Linked DNA regions of Homo sapiens. The protein of the gene in region 2 interacts with the protein of the main gene of each other region in a biochemical or structural test. Each region holds a gene or a part of one and is shown on either strand. Other genes may lie near its edges. The genes, in order: DAPK1, NCBP3, SRPK2 and LRRK2.

Evidence for each region.
Region 1: the proteins of NCBP3 (region 2) and DAPK1 form a complex in vitro, tested with the Homo sapiens proteins (one large-scale study listed by BioGRID and IntAct).
Region 3: of the proteins of NCBP3 (region 2) and SRPK2, one has a biochemical effect on the other in vitro, tested with the Homo sapiens proteins (one large-scale study listed by BioGRID and IntAct).
Region 4: the proteins of NCBP3 (region 2) and LRRK2 form a complex in vitro, tested with the Homo sapiens proteins (one large-scale study listed by BioGRID and IntAct).

Annotation. Positions count from the first base shown.
Region 1 is NC_000009.12:87,636,471-87,641,433, forward strand, and holds part of DAPK1 (death-associated protein kinase 1), read left to right. Parts: intron 1-1,472; coding exon 1,473-1,611; intron 1,612-2,883; coding exon 2,884-3,013; intron 3,014-3,179; coding exon 3,180-3,228; intron 3,229-3,318; coding exon 3,319-3,345; intron 3,346-3,827; coding exon 3,828-3,980; intron 3,981-4,331; coding exon 4,332-4,377; intron 4,378-4,963. UniProt on the Homo sapiens protein: Calcium/calmodulin-dependent serine/threonine kinase involved in multiple cellular signaling pathways that trigger cell survival, apoptosis, and autophagy.
Region 2 is NC_000017.11:3,814,371-3,819,333, forward strand, and holds part of NCBP3 (nuclear cap-binding protein subunit 3), read right to left. Parts: intron 4,203-4,963; coding exon 3,893-4,202; intron 1,901-3,892; coding exon 1,746-1,900; intron 114-1,745; coding exon 1-113. UniProt on the Homo sapiens protein: Associates with NCBP1/CBP80 to form an alternative cap-binding complex (CBC) which plays a key role in mRNA export. NCBP3 serves as adapter protein linking the capped RNAs (m7GpppG-capped RNA) to NCBP1/CBP80.
Region 3 is NC_000007.14:105,381,861-105,386,823, reverse strand, and holds part of SRPK2 (SRSF protein kinase 2), read left to right. Parts: intron 1-4,963. UniProt on the Homo sapiens protein: Serine/arginine-rich protein-specific kinase which specifically phosphorylates its substrates at serine residues located in regions rich in arginine/serine dipeptides, known as RS domains and is involved in the phosphorylation of SR splicing factors and the regulation of splicing.
Region 4 is NC_000012.12:40,363,698-40,368,660, reverse strand, and holds part of LRRK2 (leucine-rich repeat serine/threonine-protein kinase 2), read right to left. Parts: intron 3,820-4,963; coding exon 3,611-3,819; coding exon of another isoform or gene 3,528-3,610; exon of another isoform or gene 1,656-3,527; coding exon 1,584-1,655; exon of another isoform or gene 1,018-1,583; coding exon 896-1,017; 3' UTR 1-895. UniProt on the Homo sapiens protein: Serine/threonine-protein kinase which phosphorylates a broad range of proteins involved in multiple processes such as neuronal plasticity, innate immunity, autophagy, and vesicle trafficking.

The DNA.
Region 1 (4,963 bases), on a different chromosome or scaffold from region 2:
TCACCATTCTTGGAAGCCCTCACACAGCAGATTGAAAGTGAGGCTCAGAATCTTCATTTTTAAAGCATCCTCAAATAATTCTGATACCCATGGACTCTAGACCGTGCTAAGGAAAACACTGACCTGGAGGGTGAAGGCATGTGGGATCTGAAACTTTTAAGAAAACAGCTTTTTTGTCATTCTTATCTGATCTTATGAGCACCAATTTTCTTACTCTGAATGGATGTAGATGTGGAAGGTATAATGTTTGGGGAGCGCTCTTGCCCTAAGAGAGATAATGAATACAGCAGTTTGTGCATAATTGCACTTAATTATTATGTTGTGAATATATGGTTAAACTTGATAAAGATTAACTTATAAAAACTCTTATTAAAACTTCCCTGTTATTTGCCATTCATCGCTATCGTGGAGTTTTTAGGGGAGCTTGTTCGTCCATCCACCTGATAAAGTTTTGAATGCATGCTGTGTGCCTGGCTCTGGCGGGGAGTGGGGCATACAGCAGTAGCCAATAGCTGGGGTGGGAGGTTCTGACCACTCCCCTCCACCCACTTACAGTCTGGACAGAGAAATAAACTAAAAAAATCCGCAACCAACAACATACATTTTGCTTTTTTTGTAAATGTATTCTTTTTTTTTGTTTTTTTGAGACAGTCTCGCTCTGTCACCAGGCTGAAGGGCAGTGGCACAATCTTGGCTCACTGCCACCTCCGTCTCCCAGGTTCAAGTGATTCTCCTGCCTCAGTCTCCCGAGTAGCTGAGACTACAGGCACACGTCACCATGCCCAGTTGTTTTTTGTATTTTTAGTAGAGACGGTGTTTCTCCATGTTGGCCAGGATGGTCTCGATCTCTTGACCTTGTGATCCGCCCGCCTCAGCCTCCCAAAGTGCTGGGATTACAGGTGTGAGCCATTGCGCCCAGGCTACTAAATGTGATTTTTATAAATGTGTTAGTATTTACATACAAACCAATACTAGACAAGAGAGGAAAAAACCCTTATCAGACCATATATTGTGAATTTGAGTTTTAAAGAATTAATTAAACATGCAAGTTATGAACTTTTCAGGTACTCTCTAATTGAAATAAGAAGATATACACTATAAATTCTGTACAAAGCTGGCTTGCAGATTTTTTTCTCGTCATTAGAGTTAAGACATCACCTCTAAGTATGTTTAATTAAAATGTTTTCAAGATACACTGATATTTTCTTCACAGCATTTCATCTCTGCCCCTCCTCTCATTTGTGAACACGGAACCTTAGGAAAATGGTTCCCAAGTGCTTTCAAGCACAAATGTGTCTGAATGCAGAATTGTCAACAACCTGCACAGAGAATTCTGAATCCATGCTTGGCGGTTTCAGCATAGTCTTTATGCTGTTTTCTTGTCTGAAGTTTGAGCGCACCAATAGTCTATGAGAGAAGGAATCAATATGAAACAGAGTTGTTACCAATAACCTCTGCTTCCGGGTTCTCAGCGTTGCAGGTGGCGAGCTGTTTGACTTCTTAGCTGAAAAGGAATCTTTAACTGAAGAGGAAGCAACTGAATTTCTCAAACAAATTCTTAATGGTGTTTACTACCTGCACTCCCTTCAAATCGCCCACTTTGATCTTAAGGTACGTTTCAAAGTGTAAGCCAGATAGAAGCTTGTGCAGATCACAGCCTTGGTTGTTTCTCTGCTAAGAAAAATTGAGGCATCTGAAAGAGTTACATGATTTTCCTGTACCAGTTTAACAAACAGAAATATCACTATAAATCGGCAAGCATAGGATACATGCCCCCCACTGGGATGGCTAACCTTTTTGTGGGATAGAGGCTTAATGATAATTGATTACATTCTGGAATTCTTGGTAAAGAATACAAGGGGTCTTAGGAGCCAGGTTTTTTAGTAAGGGGGCTGCTCTAGCCAGCAGCTAGTGACTGGCACTGGTTCCTTCTGTGGCTCTGGGCATGTTAAGATAGAAAATGTGTTGAGTGATGCAAAGGCGTATGGCCTGACTCTGTCACCAATAATCAAGCAAACCAAACTCAGATTGGCTAATTGGGGCATTTGCCTGGCTGGATGCAGGACGCTGTTGGAGATGAAAGGGCATGTAAGCCGTCCTCCCAGCCATGACAGAGGTGTGGTCTCTTTGGGAAGGGAAGACACGACAGGAGCAATAGGAAGTGGCAATGGTGGGAAGTTCCAGTTCAAGGCAGGAAGAGGTGGTCTGGTAAAGCAGCGCGTGCTCCATCCGAGTAGTTGATTCAGACCAGTAGAGCTGGGATAGGATTTCAGAGGAGGGAGGATTTTCCCCATTCTTCTGTAGCAGAGCTGTCAATGTCCCATTCATGTCCCTGCTGGCCCCACAAACAATGTGCAAAAGCACACACTCATATACATCCTAACAGAGGGCTTGTTGCAAATACCTGTGACTCTTCCTGGCATCTTGTTTCTGGCCCTGGGAGCTGGAAATGCAAAAGAAAAATGTCCACAGAAGCAACTGTCAGCCATGGAGGATGGAGAAATGGTGGATAAAGACCCCAGCTCCCTCCTGCTACAATTGGAATAACACTGAGTTCTCCTTTTCCTCTCCCATTCCCCCAGTTACCCCCACTTGATAGGACACCTCGTAGCAGCTTCCTTCTGTTTCCTGTATCTCCTTTCTCTACCAAGTGTTTCCTGGTGTCCCCTCCCACATAACCCACTTGCATCCGAATCCTTGTCTCAGGCCTGCTTCAGGGAGAACCTAGAGCAAGACATGTATTTTCCTGCTGTTCTCTTCCAACCACCCTTTCTTCCCTACTTTTTGGCCTTTTTTTTTTTTTTGGAGAGAAGAACTATTCTGCCATCTTGTCCTCAGCATAACATATCATAGCTTTTTATTTATCTCTCTCTTTTTTTCAAGCCTGAGAACATAATGCTTTTGGATAGAAATGTCCCCAAACCTCGGATCAAGATCATTGACTTTGGGTTGGCCCATAAAATTGACTTTGGAAATGAATTTAAAAACATATTTGGGACTCCAGAGTTTGTCGGTAAGTTTCTTTGCTCCTGTGGTCATTTACGTCTCATAAACATTATTCTGGCAAACCTCCCCTGCTAGAAGATTCTTTCCCTGCTACATGTTCCTGGTTGTTGCATGAAGATAGAATCGGTTAGTTTGCTTCCTCCCAAGCTAAATGAGTGTTTGTTTCCTCTTAGCTCCTGAGATAGTCAACTATGAACCTCTTGGTCTTGAGGCAGATATGTGGTAAGGAGTATGTCCTTGGTGTTGTTTGCTTTCTGATTTATTTGACTATTCTTCTGACATGTTTTTTTGTTTGTTTTGTGTTGTTTTTAGGAGTATCGGGGTAATAACCTATATCCTGTAAGTATCAGAATTCACAACTCATACTCTCTTCTCTTCTATGAGACCATAGGTTTAATTAACCATTAAATGTGCTGTGTTGATCTCTTCAGCTTATGCATGCTTTTGATGCAAACATATTCATTTTACACCCCCAAAACATGTTTAGTTTATACTAATTAAACATGTTCTCCTAATTTGAAATGAGTCATCAGAAACTGTAGCATAATCACTGAAAGAAAGCATAGCTGTCCATCACTGCCGAGAAAACAGGTTTCCTTTAAACTACCAGACGCTGTTCCAGATTAACTTGTTAAGTGAATCCTTTTGCCTGAAGCTGAAGCATTTGCTCCTGACAGTTAAAGCCCTATGAAATATAATCAAACTGTGACTATTCGAGCACCAGATTATAATCTTATTCCACACTCCAGATGTTATAGGAGCAAAATGACAACACCAAGGGGTCATCATTAATGTTCTATGCCCAACTTTATTTTTAACAGCCTAAGTGGGGCCTCCCCATTTCTTGGAGACACTAAGCAAGAAACGTTAGCAAATGTATCCGCTGTCAACTACGAATTTGAGGATGAATACTTCAGTAATACCAGTGCCCTAGCCAAAGATTTCATAAGAAGACTTCTGGTCAAGGATCCAAAGTGAGTGTCCACGTTCCTGAAAGGTGCTTGGCCACGGCCTCAGCCAGCCCAGAGCCTGTGTCTGTTCCATGCACAGGGCCACGTTCCTCAGACCCTGCTTGCTTCATCTGCCAAAGGGCAGCATGCCATGTGAAACGCTTCAGAAAATGCAAGCAGGGCCCTCTGCCCCCACTCAGTCAGTCCCTGCAGGCACAGTGAAATAATCACAAAAAGACCGATGTTGTTTTTGGCTTTCTTCCCTGAACTGCATTTTCCACAGTATCTGCTTGGCAGGCCCAGCCAGCATGAAAACAACCTTAGTATTTGCTGCTATGGTCACAGCATTTTTTTTCTTCTCCCCCTCCCCTCAAGGAAGAGAATGACAATTCAAGATAGTTTGCAGCATCCCTGGATCAAGGTGAGTTGCATATTACGAAACTGTTTAGATCACTTTCTATGTGATTGGTTTGGGCACCCTGGTATTCATGTATCATAGAGTACTGCTAACCACAGGTCACACCTGGAGTGTTAAGTTTGCTATTTGCATCGTATCTTAAGAAAAGCTGACAGGTTAGACTGTATACTAATGATCCCAGAGGTGGGGAGAGAGGAATAAGCGAGCACAGAGCAGGAACTGAAGAAGGTCAAGCCCACTCGACAACTGTGTTTGGAGTGACCTGTGGGGTGTTGGCCCAAACAGTGTATTTAACATTTTATGTTGATTCCAGCATGTAAATATCAATCAAATCTGGATTTCCAGCTTCTCTTGGGAAATCTGAAGATCTGCTGACACTGAGCCCTCATTCCACGTGGCCTTGGGAAGTGGCACAGGTGCCTTGGTGCTAGGGAACAGGGCGCCCTGGAACATTACACCTTTACATTACCTGCCTGGCCTGGTTGACATTTGGATTAAAGTATCTTCAATCCAGGGCAGAAAGGGCTAAGGGTGGGAAAGTATGATAGTTACAGAATAAAATCATGAAATAAAGAAGTGAACATCACAG
Region 2 (4,963 bases):
GGGAACACCTAGCCTACTATGCACATCAGAAGAGGGCTCTCTCCGAACGACGGGGTTACTACTAAAAGCCTTTTCCGGAGAATGTGGTCTTTTTCCTAACCGCTGGCGTATATCTGAAAAAAGAGAAAAAGTGCACCAGTGACCGTGTGTGTGCTTTATGCTCGGCACCAGCCGCCTGACACCTCTAACGGATCTGGCGCTAACCCCTGCCCCGAGGACACAGGGCCTGACAATCAGGCTGCTAAGTATTCTTCCTTTGTAATCAGTCTGGATTTCCTTAGGAAAATTCGGACATAGGGGCTGTCAGAGGAAAAATCCTCAACTGATTACTCCAGAACTATATTTCTGAAGAAACAACCTTTTTTTTTTTTTCTTTAAGCAGAATCAAGAAGACTAAGTAATTTACAAAAGTTTCAGCGAACAAAAAATCCTGTGAGCTCCTGGAAAGTGGAAGGCACAATCTTTGAACATACAAGTAGTTCCCAATAAACTTATTACATTTAACCAGTAAATATAAAGAGACTGGAAAAGGCAAAGGATCAAATGTGTTTTTCCCTCAATCCCCCCAGAAATCGGCCTGTCCTCTTGAGTTCCCCCTAACCACCACAGCAACAACAGAAACACATTCGTTGGTGAGGCCCTGTGCCGAGGTCTCCTCTCACTTTAGCTTCTCTCAGAGAGCAGCACCCTGGTCTCTGGTCACTGAGACCTGAGCTCCTTTCCTCCAACACTTCCTAGCACTGAGTCTTCCTTCACAAGACTATCCTGTTCTTTATCCATTCTGTCTCCACCGACCTAGTTCAGGCTCTTGTTACTTTTTTAACTCTCTACCCCACCCCACTCCACCCTCAAGTTGTCTTTCTAAAATAGATGTAAGATCAGGTTACTTCTCATGTAAAAAAATCAGGTTTGCCAACAGAGATCCTACCCTCTCCAAGGCCTGGCTCTAATGCTACTTTCTCTAAGAAGTCTTTCACAACTTCCCGAGTAGATCTATGACGGCTCTGCGTCCCCTCCAAAGGCTTCTCACATTCCTAGCACCTAGACCAGGGTCTGGCACATAGCAGGTACGGCTAAAGACCTGCTGAATCAGTGTTTGAACATAGAAATTATCTAGTTCAAACTCTTAACTGTTCAGACAACCACCGAACTTAATTTCTATTATTCTTGTATATAAAGTATACCAGTGTCATACAGAGGAAAATATGGTTGGCCCTCCTCATCCATGGATTCCACATCTATAGATTCAACCAACTGCTGATCGAATACATGTGGAAAAAAAGTAAGACATAAGAGTACAGCAAAAAATAATACAAATTTTACACAACACAGGATAAGAATTTATACCGTATTAGGTATTGTAAATAATCTAGAGATGACTTAAAGTATATGAGAGGATGTGTGTAGGTTATATGCAGATAATATGTCACTTTATATAAGGGACTTAAGCATCAATGGATTTTGGTATCTGTAGGGGGCGGGGAGGGGGTCCTGGAAGCAAGCCCCCAGACATACCAAGGAACAACTGTAATTATTTGGAATAAAAACATTTAAAGCTAGTTTTTCAGAAGTCTGATTATTTTTCATTTCCTCAATTTCCAACACCTAGCCCACAATTTAGACATGATGAACCAGGACAGCTAAATCAGTTCACACATCGCATGTTTTACTCAGGAACCTCTCTCTGCCCCAGTCTGCTTTCCGGAGCTCAGAATCCAGCCAGGAATCCAAGTGAGGAACAGTACCTGATTTAGTACTGCTGACTGGTGGCCGTGGACGGGAGTGCTGACGTTTCTCATCTAATAGATGTCGGACATCTGCAAATTTCTCAGGTGGTAATTTGTTACCAATTCGGTTTTTGATATTGCTTGAAGATACACTATCTGCCCTCATGGAGTTCCTTTAAAAAGGGGGTAGGATGGGGCACAGTTAACCAACTTCAACTGTGAGACAAGACCCAAACAACAATCTCATACTTTGGAGGAAACAATTTAAGAAATCCTGTCTTACATGGCCAACATTCACTTACAAATCCATAAACTTATAATTATTTGCTTATGGAAACCATGATCTGCCTGCTCTAAAGAGACTGGTTCTGGTGAGCAGGTTTTCGAAGGTGGTTTCCACATGTGTATGTGCTATTACACAGCATACAACTACAAGTCCCCCTTTTCTGGGACAAACGTTAAGTAGAGGCCTACAAAGAGATTGGGGCTTCCACTTACACATGCTGTGATGTGGCTGTAGTCAACACACAGTATAGTCTACAGTCTCTCTCTTTAAAGGGCAGACTTCTCTTTCAAAGAGATATGCTATCATGCTAGGTGCCAGCACCGTTCCGGCAGCATTCTCTACCAGAAAGCTCTCTGAAAACCAAAAATAAGAATGTGAACAGGCTCATGCCTGTAATCCCAGCACTTTGGGAAGCTGAGGCGGGCGGATCACGAGGTCAGGAGATCGAGACCATCCTGGCTAACATGGTGAAACCCAGTCTCTACTAAAAATACAAAAAATTAGCTGGGCGTGGTGGCCTGTACTCCCAGCTCCCCGGGAGGCTGAGGCAGGAAAATGCTGTGAACCCAGAAGGCGGAGCTTGCAGTGAGCCGAGATCGTGTTATCGCTCCACTGCACTCCAGGCTGGGCGACAGAGCGAGACTCCGTCTCAAAAAAAAAAAGAACGTGGTGAACAAGGCCATACAAACAAATCAGCTTGAATGGTCTTTTCCCCTCCCCACAAACATACTACGTTACACAGAGCATCCCTAGACTCTAACCCTTAGAACTGTGGATTCTGCCTGCACAGAATCTGCTCACCCCTAGTAGTAATCAAAGACATGCACATTAAAATAACTATTTTTTTTTTGTTCATGAAACTAGCTAGCATTAGAAAGAATGGTAATAGCTAAGGCTGGTGAGCTTGTAGGTAACAGGTGGTAATGTGAGTGATTAAAACCCTTCTGGGATTAAAACCCTTCTGAGCCCGGGCATGGTGGCTCATGCCTGTAATCCCAGCACTTTGGGAGGCTGAGGCAGGTGGATCACGAGGTCAGGAGATTGAGACCATCCTGGCCAACATGCTGAAACCCGTCTCTACTAAAATTACAAAAAATTAGCCAGGAGTAGTGGCAGGCGCCTGTAGTCCCAGCTACTCGGGAGGCTGAGGCAGGAGAATGGCGTGAACCTGGGAGGCGGAGTTTGCAGTGAGCCGAGATCGCGCCACTGCACTCCAGCCTGGGTGACAGAGCGAGACTCCGTCTCAAAAAAAAAATAAAAACACACAAAAAACCCTTCTGGAAAAAAATAAAGCAATACTTACCATCTTTTTAAACACATATTGTTTTGTGTAATAACTGGACTTTGAGGAATTTATTGAGTTAGTGCAATTGTAAGAAAATAGAAACCTAAAGTCCATCAAAAAGGAATTCGTTAAATAAATCATGATACTTTCAAACAACAGACTATATACAGTTGAAAAAAATAATGTCTACAATATATTAAGTGAAAAATGCACAATGCAAAACTATAAATAGCATAACCTCATCTTTATAAAAAGTATACTTTTATACAAATATATCTACAGCTTTTCCCTGTGCCATACACACACACACACACACACACACAAATAGCTGAAAGGTTATTCGCCAAATTGCTAACAGTAGTTATTGTTGAGAAAGAATGGGAATACAGATGATTTTCACTTTCTATGTTGTCTTTTGTTTTTATAACAAGAATCACTGCTTGTATAGAGGAAATACTGGATGCGTTTATTAAACTCCTACAAGGGACTGAAATCAGAATAGATAAAAGATATTATAAAATTAGGAGGAATTAAGAAGTTATACTAGTATTTAAAATCAAATTAAAAGCTAGCTTTGATAAAACAAATTTTTACCTAATATTTTTCAACTGAGATTCCACTTCGTCAGCATACATAGTCATTTTCATGCTTTTCTTTGGTGAAGGCGTGGAAATCATTTTCAGTTCTAGATCATAGTCCATTTCATCTGAGTCTGAGCTGCTGGCACTGGATCGTCTAGACGCGCTCCGCTCCCGGGGCTGCTTGAGAGCCGGGAGCTCCTCGTGGTACTCTACCACCACTCTGTCATCTGCATCCATGTCCTGGTCTTCTTCTTCCTCTTCCTCTTCCTCCTCCTCCTCCTCTTCCTCCTCTTCAATGGGTTCCTCGGGAACATTCACTAGCCCTGAAGAAATTTAACCAGAAAACATTAGGAAAAGCACTAAAATTAACAAGTATGATTTTCTACTCTACATCGGTGACCTTTTTAAAAGGTGGGGTTCCCATCCCTGACATTTTATTGGAGCACTATCTATAATAGTGCCAAATGGACATTACTCTGATACTGCAACAGGAGGATGGCTAGGTAAAGTATGATGCAGCAGCCTAACCAAATACCATAAAGTCATTTAAAATACAACTGACCTTTATTATTCACAGATTTTGTATTTGCAAATTTACCAAATTTATTTGTAACTCCAAAATGAATACGTGCAATGCTTCCATGGTCATTTGCTGGCACGCACAGAGTGGCAAAAAAATCTGAGTCACCAGGCACACACACTCCCAGTGGAGGTCAAACAAAGCAACACTCCACCTTCCTGTTTCATCTCATGCTGTAAACAAGCGTCTGTTTCAGTCCACCGAGTGGCACATTTTTCACACTTCTGTGCCTGCTGCTAGTGATTTCACTGCTTAAAATGGCCCTGAGTGTCGTGCCGAAGTGCTGCCTAGTGTTCCTAGATGCAAGGGGGCTGTGATGTGCCTTGTGGAAAAATACCATATCAGGTAAGGCATTCAGGCATGAGTTATAGGGCTACTGGCTGTGAACTCAATGTTAACGAATCAACAATGTGTCTTAAATAAGGTGTCTTAAAGAGAAACATATGGGCCCAGCGCGGTGGCTCACGCCTGTAATCCCAGCACTTTGGGAGGCCGAGGTGGGCA
Region 3 (4,963 bases), on a different chromosome or scaffold from region 2:
AGTCTGTAAGGTAACGGGACCAGCCCAATTATATAACTGATTGAGGCATTGCCATTTTTCACTTAACTCTTTGAATCAAGTCATAATTTTATTTAATAATTTTTTTGAGGCAGAGTTTCGCTCTTGTCGCTCAGGCTGGAGTGCAATGGCCCAATCTTGGCTCACTGCAACCTCCGCCTCCCAGGTTCAAGGGATTCTCCTGCCTCAGCCTCCTGAGTAGCTGGGATTACAGGCACCCGCCACCAAGCCTAGCTATTTTTTTTGTATTTTTTAGTAGAGACGGGGTTTCACCATGTTGGCCGGGCTGGTCTACAACTCCTGACTTCAGGTGATTCACCGGCCTCGGCCTCCCACACAGCTGGGATTACAGGTGTGAGCCACCGTGCCCGACCTGAATCAAGATATTATTTAAAAGAACTGTTTGATGTTATTTATTTATTCATGTCTTCAATAGGTATTTACATGTCTGTCTTCGGAGATGGTGTTAGAGGTTGTTTTTTTTTTTTTTTTGAGACCGAGTCTTGCTCTGTTGCCCAGGCTGGAGGGCAGTGGCGCGATCTCGGCTCACTGCAAGCTCCGCCTCCCGAATTCACGCCATTCTCCTGCCTCAGCCTCCTGAGTAGCTGGGACTACAGGCGCCCGCCACCACGCCCGGCTAATATTTTGTATTTTTAGTAGAGGTGGGGTTTCACCGTGTTAGCCAGGATGGTGTCGATCTCCTGACCTCGTGATTCGCCCGCCTCGGCCTCCTAAAGTGCTGGGATTACAGGCGTGAGCCACCAAGCCCGGCCGGTGATAGAGTTTTGAACAAGACAAAGCTCCTTGCAAAGCTAACCTTGGGAGGTTTGGGGAAAACCACAAAGAGGGTGACAAGATAATTTCAGATAGGGCTAAGGGATAGGAAGAAAATGAAGATGGGACATGTTAAGTAATAATAATAGATGACATTTGAACACTGTGCCAGTCACTCTGTCGATTGTTTTACATATACCTTGTGACAACCCTAAGAGGTAGGCACCGTTATTACGGACATTTTACAGGTGAAACAGGGACACAGGAAAAGTAAGTAACATGCCCAGCTGTTGAATCAAGGCAGCCCGGGACCAGAGTCCACTCTCTGAGAAATGGCATTTGGGCAGGATCGAGAATGAGGAGGAGATCCAGTGTGGCAGAGGCCCTGGGGAGGAATGGGCTGGAAGTATTCGAGAAACCCAAAAGTAAGAGTGGCCTGAGTGGCCCAGAGAGGTTGATGGGAGGCAGGAGTCAGAGCGTGTCTACCCTCGTAGGCCATTGGAGGCTTACATGTGGAAGGGACAGGTTCTGATTCCTGTTTAAAAAGAGGGCTGCTGTCCGGGCGCGGTGGCTCACGCCTGTAATCCCAGCACTTTGGGAGGCCGAGGCGGGCGGATCACGAGGTCAGGAGATCAAGACCATCCTGGCTAACACCCCGTCTCTACTAAAAATACAAAAACAAAATTAGCCCGGCATGGTGGCGGGCGCCTGTAGTCTCAGCTACTCGGGAGGCTGAGGCGAGAGAATGGCGTGAACCTGGAAGGCGGAGCTTGCAGTGAGCCGGGATTGTGCCACTGCACTCCAGCTTGGGCGACAGAGCGAGACTCCATCTCAAAAAAAAAAAAAAAAAAAAAAAAAAATGCCGGGCGCGGTGGCTCACGCCTGTAATCCCAGCACTTTGGGAGGCCGAGGCGGGCGGATCACGAGGTCAGGAGATCGAGACCATCCTGGCTAACACGGTGAAACCCCGTCCCTACTAAAAATATAAAAAATTAGCTGGGCGTGTGGGCGCCTGTAGTCCCAGCTACTCGGGAGGCTGAGGCAGGAGAATGGCGTGAACCCGGGAGGCGGAGCTTGCAGTGAGCCGAGATTGCGCCACTGCACTCCAGCCTGGGCGACAGAGCCAGACTCCGTCTCAAAAAAAAAAAAAGGTTGCTATGTGGAGAATAGATTGTGGGGATGGGGGTAGTAGTGGAAACAGAAGTGGCCTGCAGTAGTGCATGGGAAACCGGGTGACGTTGAGTGTGTGAGGAGTGGCACCTGAGAAGTGGTAAAAGAATCTCCAGGAGACTAGTATTTTCAGGGTACCCCGAATTTTACAGACAGCTCTGACAGGTTAAGCCCACAATAGCTTCGTTTGGATCAGAATTCAGGTCTCTTGAAGCACGGTTTTTGCTTTTTGATTAATTTTCCAGAGGAGGAAAAGGAGTAATAGGTATAATTTTAAACTATTAATATGATGACTGGCAAACTTGAATTATGTGACTGTGGGTCTGGCTTGGTATAATATGATTTACTTTTGTCATTATCTACTTTTGTATATACAAGCAGGCTTTTAATTAATTTTAGTTCATTTCAAATCTGTGAGCTTTTATGAATTGAGCCAGTTCCTAGAGGCTACTTTTATGGTACACTGGAAATTGTAGTTGTCAGGAATAAGATTAAGATTATTTAGTGGGTCAAAATTTTAATCCTGTTAGATTGTCCTGTGAGTTTAGTTTGCTTATTATTAATTGTGCTGCTTTGTGAGTAACAGGCAGAACGGAAGGACTGTAGTGCTGTTTAGTCACAAATCTTAGGAATTAGCTACATCACATAGCTTGGGATAAATTTTTGCCTTATAGTATGTTTATATGGAGGTACAATTTTTAAAATATCTCTTTCATTTATTTTTTTCATAACTTTTATTGGGATATAGTTCACATACCATAAAATTTACCTTTTAAAGTAGGCCATTTACAGATTTTTAGTCTATTCATTAAATTGTGCAGCCGTTATCTAATTCTATAACATTTTCACTTCCCCAGAAAGAAACTCCATATTTATTTCCCAGTTATTCTCCATTCCCCTTCCCCCTGCGTTGGCAACAACTAATTTACATTCTAAGTCTCTATGAATCTGCTTATTCTGAACATTTCATGTAAATGGAATATACAGTATGTGGCTTTGTCTGGTTTCCTTAGAACAATGTTTTCAAGGTTCATCCATGTTATGGCACGTATTAGTACTTAATTCCTTTATATTGTTGAATAGTTGTGTCAATATGCCACATTTTATCCATTTATCCATTGTTCCTTAAAATTTTTCTATTTCTGGCCAGGCGTGGTGGCTCATGCCTGTAATCCCAGCACTTTGGGAGGATGAGGTGGGCGGATCACGAGGTCAATAGTTCGAGACCAGCCTGGCCAATAGGGTGAAACCCCGTCTCTACTAAAAATACAAAAATTGCCTGGCATGGTAGTGTGCTCCTGCAGTTCCAGCTACTCGGGAGGCTGAGGCAGAAGAATTGCTTGAACCTGGGAGACGGAGGTTGTGGTGAGCCGAGATCATGCCGCTGCACTCCAGCCTGGGTGACAGAGCGACACTCCGTCTCAATTAAAAAAAAAAAAAAATTCTGTTTTGTTTTTTGTTCTTGTAAAATTTTTATTAAAACATTTAATTTTGAGGCCGGGTGCGGTGGCTCATGCCTATAATCCCAGCACTTTGGGAGGCTGAGGTGGGCAGATCACGAGGTCAGGAGATCGAGACCATCCTGGCTACGGTGAAACCCCGTCTCTACTAAAAAAAAAAATACAAAAAATTAGCCGGGCATGGTGGCGGGCACCTATAGTCCCAGCTAGTTGGGAGGCTGAGGCGGGAGAATGGCGTGAACCCAGGAGGCGGAGCTTGCAGTGAACCGAGATTGTGCCACTGCACTCCAGCCTGGGCGATAGAGCGAGACTCTGTCTCCAAAAAAAAAAAAAAAAAAAAAAAAAAAATTTTTACTTTTGAAATAATTTCAGACTCACAAGACCTTGCAAAAGTGGTACAGAGTTCTTTGTGTACTCTTTATTCAACTTCCCTGACGTTGATATCTTAACCATAGAACATTGTTGAAACCAATAAATTGACATTGAGACAATGTTATTAATTCAAGAAAGATTTTACTTGGATTTTATCAGTTTTACATGCACTCTCTGTGTAGTTCTAACAAATTGTGTCACTTGTGTAGATTAGAATAATCACCACAGTCAGGATGCCAAACTGTTTCATTACCACAAAGAACAGTCACTCTCTCTTCAAATCTAAGCTTGGGAAACACTGATCTGTTCTCTATCACTTAATGTTGCCACTTTGAGAATGTTATATAAATGGAATTATACAGTATGTCACCTTTTGTGATTCGCCTTTTTTCATGCAGCGTAATGCCCTTGAGATTCATCCATGTTGTTGCCTGTGTGAGCAGAGCATTCCTTTTTTTTTTTTTTTTTTTTTTTTTTGAGATGGAGTTTTGCTCTTGTTGCCCAGGCTGGAGTGCAGTGGCACGATCTTGGCTCACCGTAACCTCCGCTTCCTGGGTTTAAGCGATTCTCCTGACTTAGCCTCCTGAGTAGCTGGGATTACAGGCATGTGCCACCATGCCAGGCTAATTTTGTATTTTAAGTAGAGACGGGGTTTCTCCACTTTGGTCAGGCTGGTCTCGAGCTCCTGACCTCAGGTGATCCACCCGCCTTGGCATCCCAAAGTGCTGGGATTATAGGCATGAGCCACCGTGCCTGGCTGTGCTTTCCTTTTTATTGGTAACAAGTATTCCATTGTGTGGATTAACAGTTTATTCACAGGCTAAAGGATATCTGGGTATACTTTGCTTCTACTTTTTTTTTTGAGATGGCATCTTGCTCTGTCGCCCAGGCTGGAGTGCACTGGCGCAATCATGGCTCACTGCACCTGCCACCTCCCAGGTTCAAGCGATTCTCCTGGCTCAGCCTCCCAAGTAGCTGGGACTACAGGCATGTGCCACCACGCCTGGCTAATTTTTGTATTTTTAGTAGAGATGGGGTTTCACCATCTTGGTCAGGCTGGTTACGAACTCCTGGCCTCAAATGATCTGCCTGCCTTAGCCTCCCAAAGTGTTGGGATTACAGGCGTGAGCCACCGTGCCCAGCTTGGTGAGACAGTTTTGGAATGTAAT
Region 4 (4,963 bases), on a different chromosome or scaffold from region 2:
GCATCACAAATTTAGGGAAAAGATGAATATAAGCATTAGAATGAAGCAGATTAGAAAACAAGTAGCTAGTGGTATGAATAAAAAAATAAAAATATCACTTGAAGGACTGAACACTGTATTTACACTAATTATACAAAATTCAGGGTATCCACATTCAAACATAGAGTTGAAAAACAACTCTATTATGTCTAGGAAAGACACAGAGAGTTTCTGTGACAAAGAGAGTTTCTGTGTCTTTCCTAGATATGAGGACTTTGACAGTATGTCATGTTTTTTCATTAGTACTTTTAATGGAGTTTTCTTTTGAATTGAGTGAAGTTGTGTAAGATGCACTGTTTGCAACAGCAACAAAGAGAATTCACATACCAACAAAGGACTTTATTAGTGCAAATTCATTTGAATATTTACAAGCATATATGATAGTGCATTTCGATGCAATCTAAGAAGGAATACATTACATGGGAAACTGTCTTAATATTTTCATTATACCGTGCAGATTTCTAGAAAAATCGACAAGCAATAGTCCTGTCTTAAGCACAGAATTTAAAATAAAGTTTACCTCCATTACAGACAAGAAAACAAAAAATTATCGGCCTTATAAATTTTAGTATGAGTACTTAAATTAGGTACTTCACAGATTTATTTTCATTAATTAATGAACGAAAGTAACTGGTATTTATAAGAAATATAACATTGTGTTTTAAATAGTTCTTTAAAATACACATTTACTGGTAAGTATTTTTACATATATTTAAATTAAAAATAATAACATTCCTTCATACACACGAGCTATTTCAAAAAATGTGAGTACCCTTTCCATGTGAACATTTTTAAAATAAATATTTACAAGAGGAGAGAATAATTTTCCTATCCAAAGACAATTCCTATTTCTCTCTTACTCAACAGATGTTCGTCTCATTTTTTCAGCTAATTCTTTTCTCACTTCAATGTGTTTTTCTAAATTTTGCACTTCATGTGGAAGATTGATGTCCCAAACGGTCAAGCAAGATTGTATCTCTAGAAAAAGAAAAAAATGAAATCATGTTTCAAAGATCCATCATAAAACATTCTTATTTTATTTCAGTTTGGCTCATGTATTTTTAGTTGACTTAGATAAATGTAAATATAAACACAGCTATAACTAATGTACTAAATTATTATTTATAAAAAACTATACTTGGAAAAGTTTTATAATACATTATAGAAACTATTAAATTTCAAATAGAGTATCAACATTTAATAAATTAACATTTCATATTCTAAAAGAAATAAAAGCTTTTTCAAACACTGTTCAAAATTAGACATTATGTAGATATAGATAAGTTGTAAAAAATATTCACATTTCGTTTAAGGTTGAGCTAGTGATTGACACCTCTACTTCAGCTGAAAATATAAATATTTAACACTTCATATCACTTGTAATTTTGAAAATTTATGTCTAAGTTCTTTACACTATAAACTACCAATTAAAATTCCTGATTATACCATATGTAATATTTTCTACAAATTTATGAAACACATAATATGTTACCATCATTCACATCATTGCCCTGTTTGGAAAACAGTATCCTTCTAAATGTTACCTTTCTGCTTTTGTGTACCTTCAGTATTTTTCCGGTTGTAGCCCAATACCAGCATGACATTTTTAAGGCTTCCTTTACAAAAACAAAATATGTAAGTTTTCTGTTAAAACTATATATTAAACTGGCCTGAAAAAAAAGTAAAGTTGTTCATAGTTTAAGACACAAATACCTTGGAACTGAATTCACAATTCTATTTTCTAGGTGACCCTTCAATTATATTGAATAAAGACCAGCATTTTTTTAAAAAATAACAAAATCTGTGATCCACTCCTTGCTGCAATTCTTAATTATGTGAGTCTGAGAAAACAGCTTAACCTTTCTATAAAATAGGCTCAGTATTTATACATTACCCTTCCCAAAGTTACAATGTTAAACGAGGTAATGTGTGTGAAAAGTTCTTTGGATATGGTAAGGTACAAATATGAGTATTTAGTACAAATATGAGTATTTAGATGGACACTTAGATGGATGGATATACTGATACTATGTCAAAATATCATATTTTCTTTTCAAATCATTCACTAATTTATTCAACAAATTTGCATCAAAAGTCTTCTATGTAGGCCCTAGGCTAGATCCTGGGAAAAAAGGGGTAAACAAAAACACACTAACCCAACCGTCTTGGAGTTTATATTCTAGTGAAGAGACTAGCATTAATGAAAAAAAAATATGACCATGATCAAAACTATGCAAGAAAGCTGTTATGGGAACCCAAAGCGGGAACTTTGACCTAATCAGTGTTGGCTTCTCAGAGGTTTTGACACAGGAGCTAACATTTCAAAGCATATGAGTTAAATAAGCATGAAAAAAAGCTATGTTAACTAAGCAAAGAAATAAACAGCATGTGCAAATCCCTGAGGCAAAATATAGCATAGTAATTGAGAAGAACTGGATGTTCATCTAGACAAGCAAGATCTGGTAGGAATGTGGTAGATGATGGAGGCAGGAGAGGTACAGTGAAGCCAGCTCATGCAGCACCTTGTAGGCTATCCTCCAATTGATCTTTATTTTAAAATCAAACTATAACCCATAGACATTCCACTATAACTTCAGTTATAAGCAAGCTATTTGGGTCCCAAAGTACATACAATTCAACTAGAGAATGCAACAACTTTGGTAGAATAAGACTACTGAGACAACCTATTGAGAGACCTACTGCTCTGCTTGTGTGGACATGTATCTTAATAGTTTACAGTCATTAAGAGCATCTAATTGTAACTCCTGTGCAACTCTAAAGTCTATAAATGAAAAATAGGTGAAGGTGCTAGAAAAACACATGTTCCTCTTTCACATATACTTGCAATGAATATATTTTCTTCACCATGTTCAAAACATTCATTATTTGCTAAAGTTACATAAATTCTAGTTTTTTTCAGAATTAAACCCCATAGTGTCGTTTTTGTAAACTTTTGTATATATGCTATTATTGTTATTTTCTAAAACAAATTATTATCAAAGGAAGACGCAAATATATTTATGCAGAAAATATATTTTATGTGCTATCACAATTTTATCATATTTAAATATAAAAATAGAAGCAAAAAAAGACAAAGTTTGAGTAAAATATGATTTGTCAATATTTGTAGGTTGTGCAGTTCAGCATGTATTGCTGCAAGAAAAAAGATTTGTTATAGAATGAAAAACCAAATGAGATTCTTTAACAAGCTGGGAGGCTAGACTATGATTAAAACAAACATTTTCTTTATTTTCTTTGCTCAAAAAGTAAAATATATTCAATACCATGTATTTCCCATTTTTGCCTTAGGTAAAAAGGAAAAAAGCAAGTAAGACCCAAACTGAGTGTTCAGCTGCAGTAATCTGCTTCTCTTGTGGGACTGAGAGCATTTACTCCCTCCACTTCTGTAATGACCCTATTCACAATTTATACCAGTCTTATGTTTCACTGTGTGACCCTCCAAGACCATCCATATGACACTGGAAAGTTCAGAGAAAATGTAAACGTAAAATAAAGGCATATTTTATAAGACTTAGAGAATATGAAAAATATCTAAAGGAAAGAAACTTGCCTAGCTGTGCTGTCATCATGACTCTGACCGAATTACAAAAGTTGTAAATTACACGTATAAGTCGACGAGTTGAAAGATCCAGGAGTAAAATATGGCCTCCTCCAGTTCCTATCCAAAGAGCAGTGTTCTTCTGAAGGCAGAGGGTTTTCACTCTCCCAGAATAAGACATTTTGTGTTTTGATTCCTTGTTTTCTTTTACCATTACCTCCCTAGAACCATAAAGTATACATTAATAATTTTACCACCAATTAAGAGATAAATGCTATTTACATATGATAACATAAACAACATTTTAAATTATTAAAACATGACACCACCACCATTATGCATCATTAAAATTATACAAAGCAAATTTTGCTAAATACAGATGCCAAAGAGCCACACTTCTTTACTTGAAGCATAAATTATCAAAGATAACAATAGCCCTTCATTTTCAGGAAATTATGAATAAGAGGGATACAATTTTTATAAATACCAAAGCTATCTAATTCAGTAAAAATAGCATACATGTGCCCAGGATAAAGAAAAAAAAAAGTTAGAGTCAAAAGTTTTACATGAAGTCTCAATGTTACAAAGGAACATAAAATTATAGTCATTCACATGTAAAAGATATCGATACAAACCACTGAATTTTTTCCCAGAACCAGTGAATAGTCTAATTCATGACAAAAATGAAGTGTCCAGAAATAAAAGAATCCTAATCGTTTTGGTACTTCAGGAAGTAAGGAACCCTTTATCAAGGAGACCTGTTGGCCCTTCTGAACATAAACTGTGAGCCCTTCTCACAATCCATAGAAAAACTGTCAGATGAATCTAAGACAGGAAACTTTGAAGTATCCTTTTACAGATATAGTGTGTAATCTAAAATGTTCTCAAGAGTATCATAGATCTATATGGTAAAATCAAAACAAAATAAAAATATAAAGTGGCTAGCAAATAAGCTTGAAAATGGTCCTGTTTCTCAGCACCAGCACAGAAAGAATGTGCTTGCTATGGATTTGTCACTCACAGGCTGCATCAGACTAAGCACTATGCTCTCATTCTGGGGTCTTGATCCCCACTCCTTAGCGCCTCGGTCAGTCCATTGCATTTCCCCCCATATTTGTCTATTATTTTGTGACTCTTTTTCTTTAGAGCAGATAATCCTGGGGCCCATAATTTAATTATAAATAGTATATTTGACACTGTGACAGAACTATGTCAAAGCTAGCAGAGACTCCAATATGCTCATTTTCAATAATGTAGTATTTTCATTCGAGAACATTCTTTGTAATACCATGAGAAAACTATGCACATTATGTGCCTATTCTTTTATGTTCTGAAGACAAAATTTTCTTGATCTGAAAAGATGGT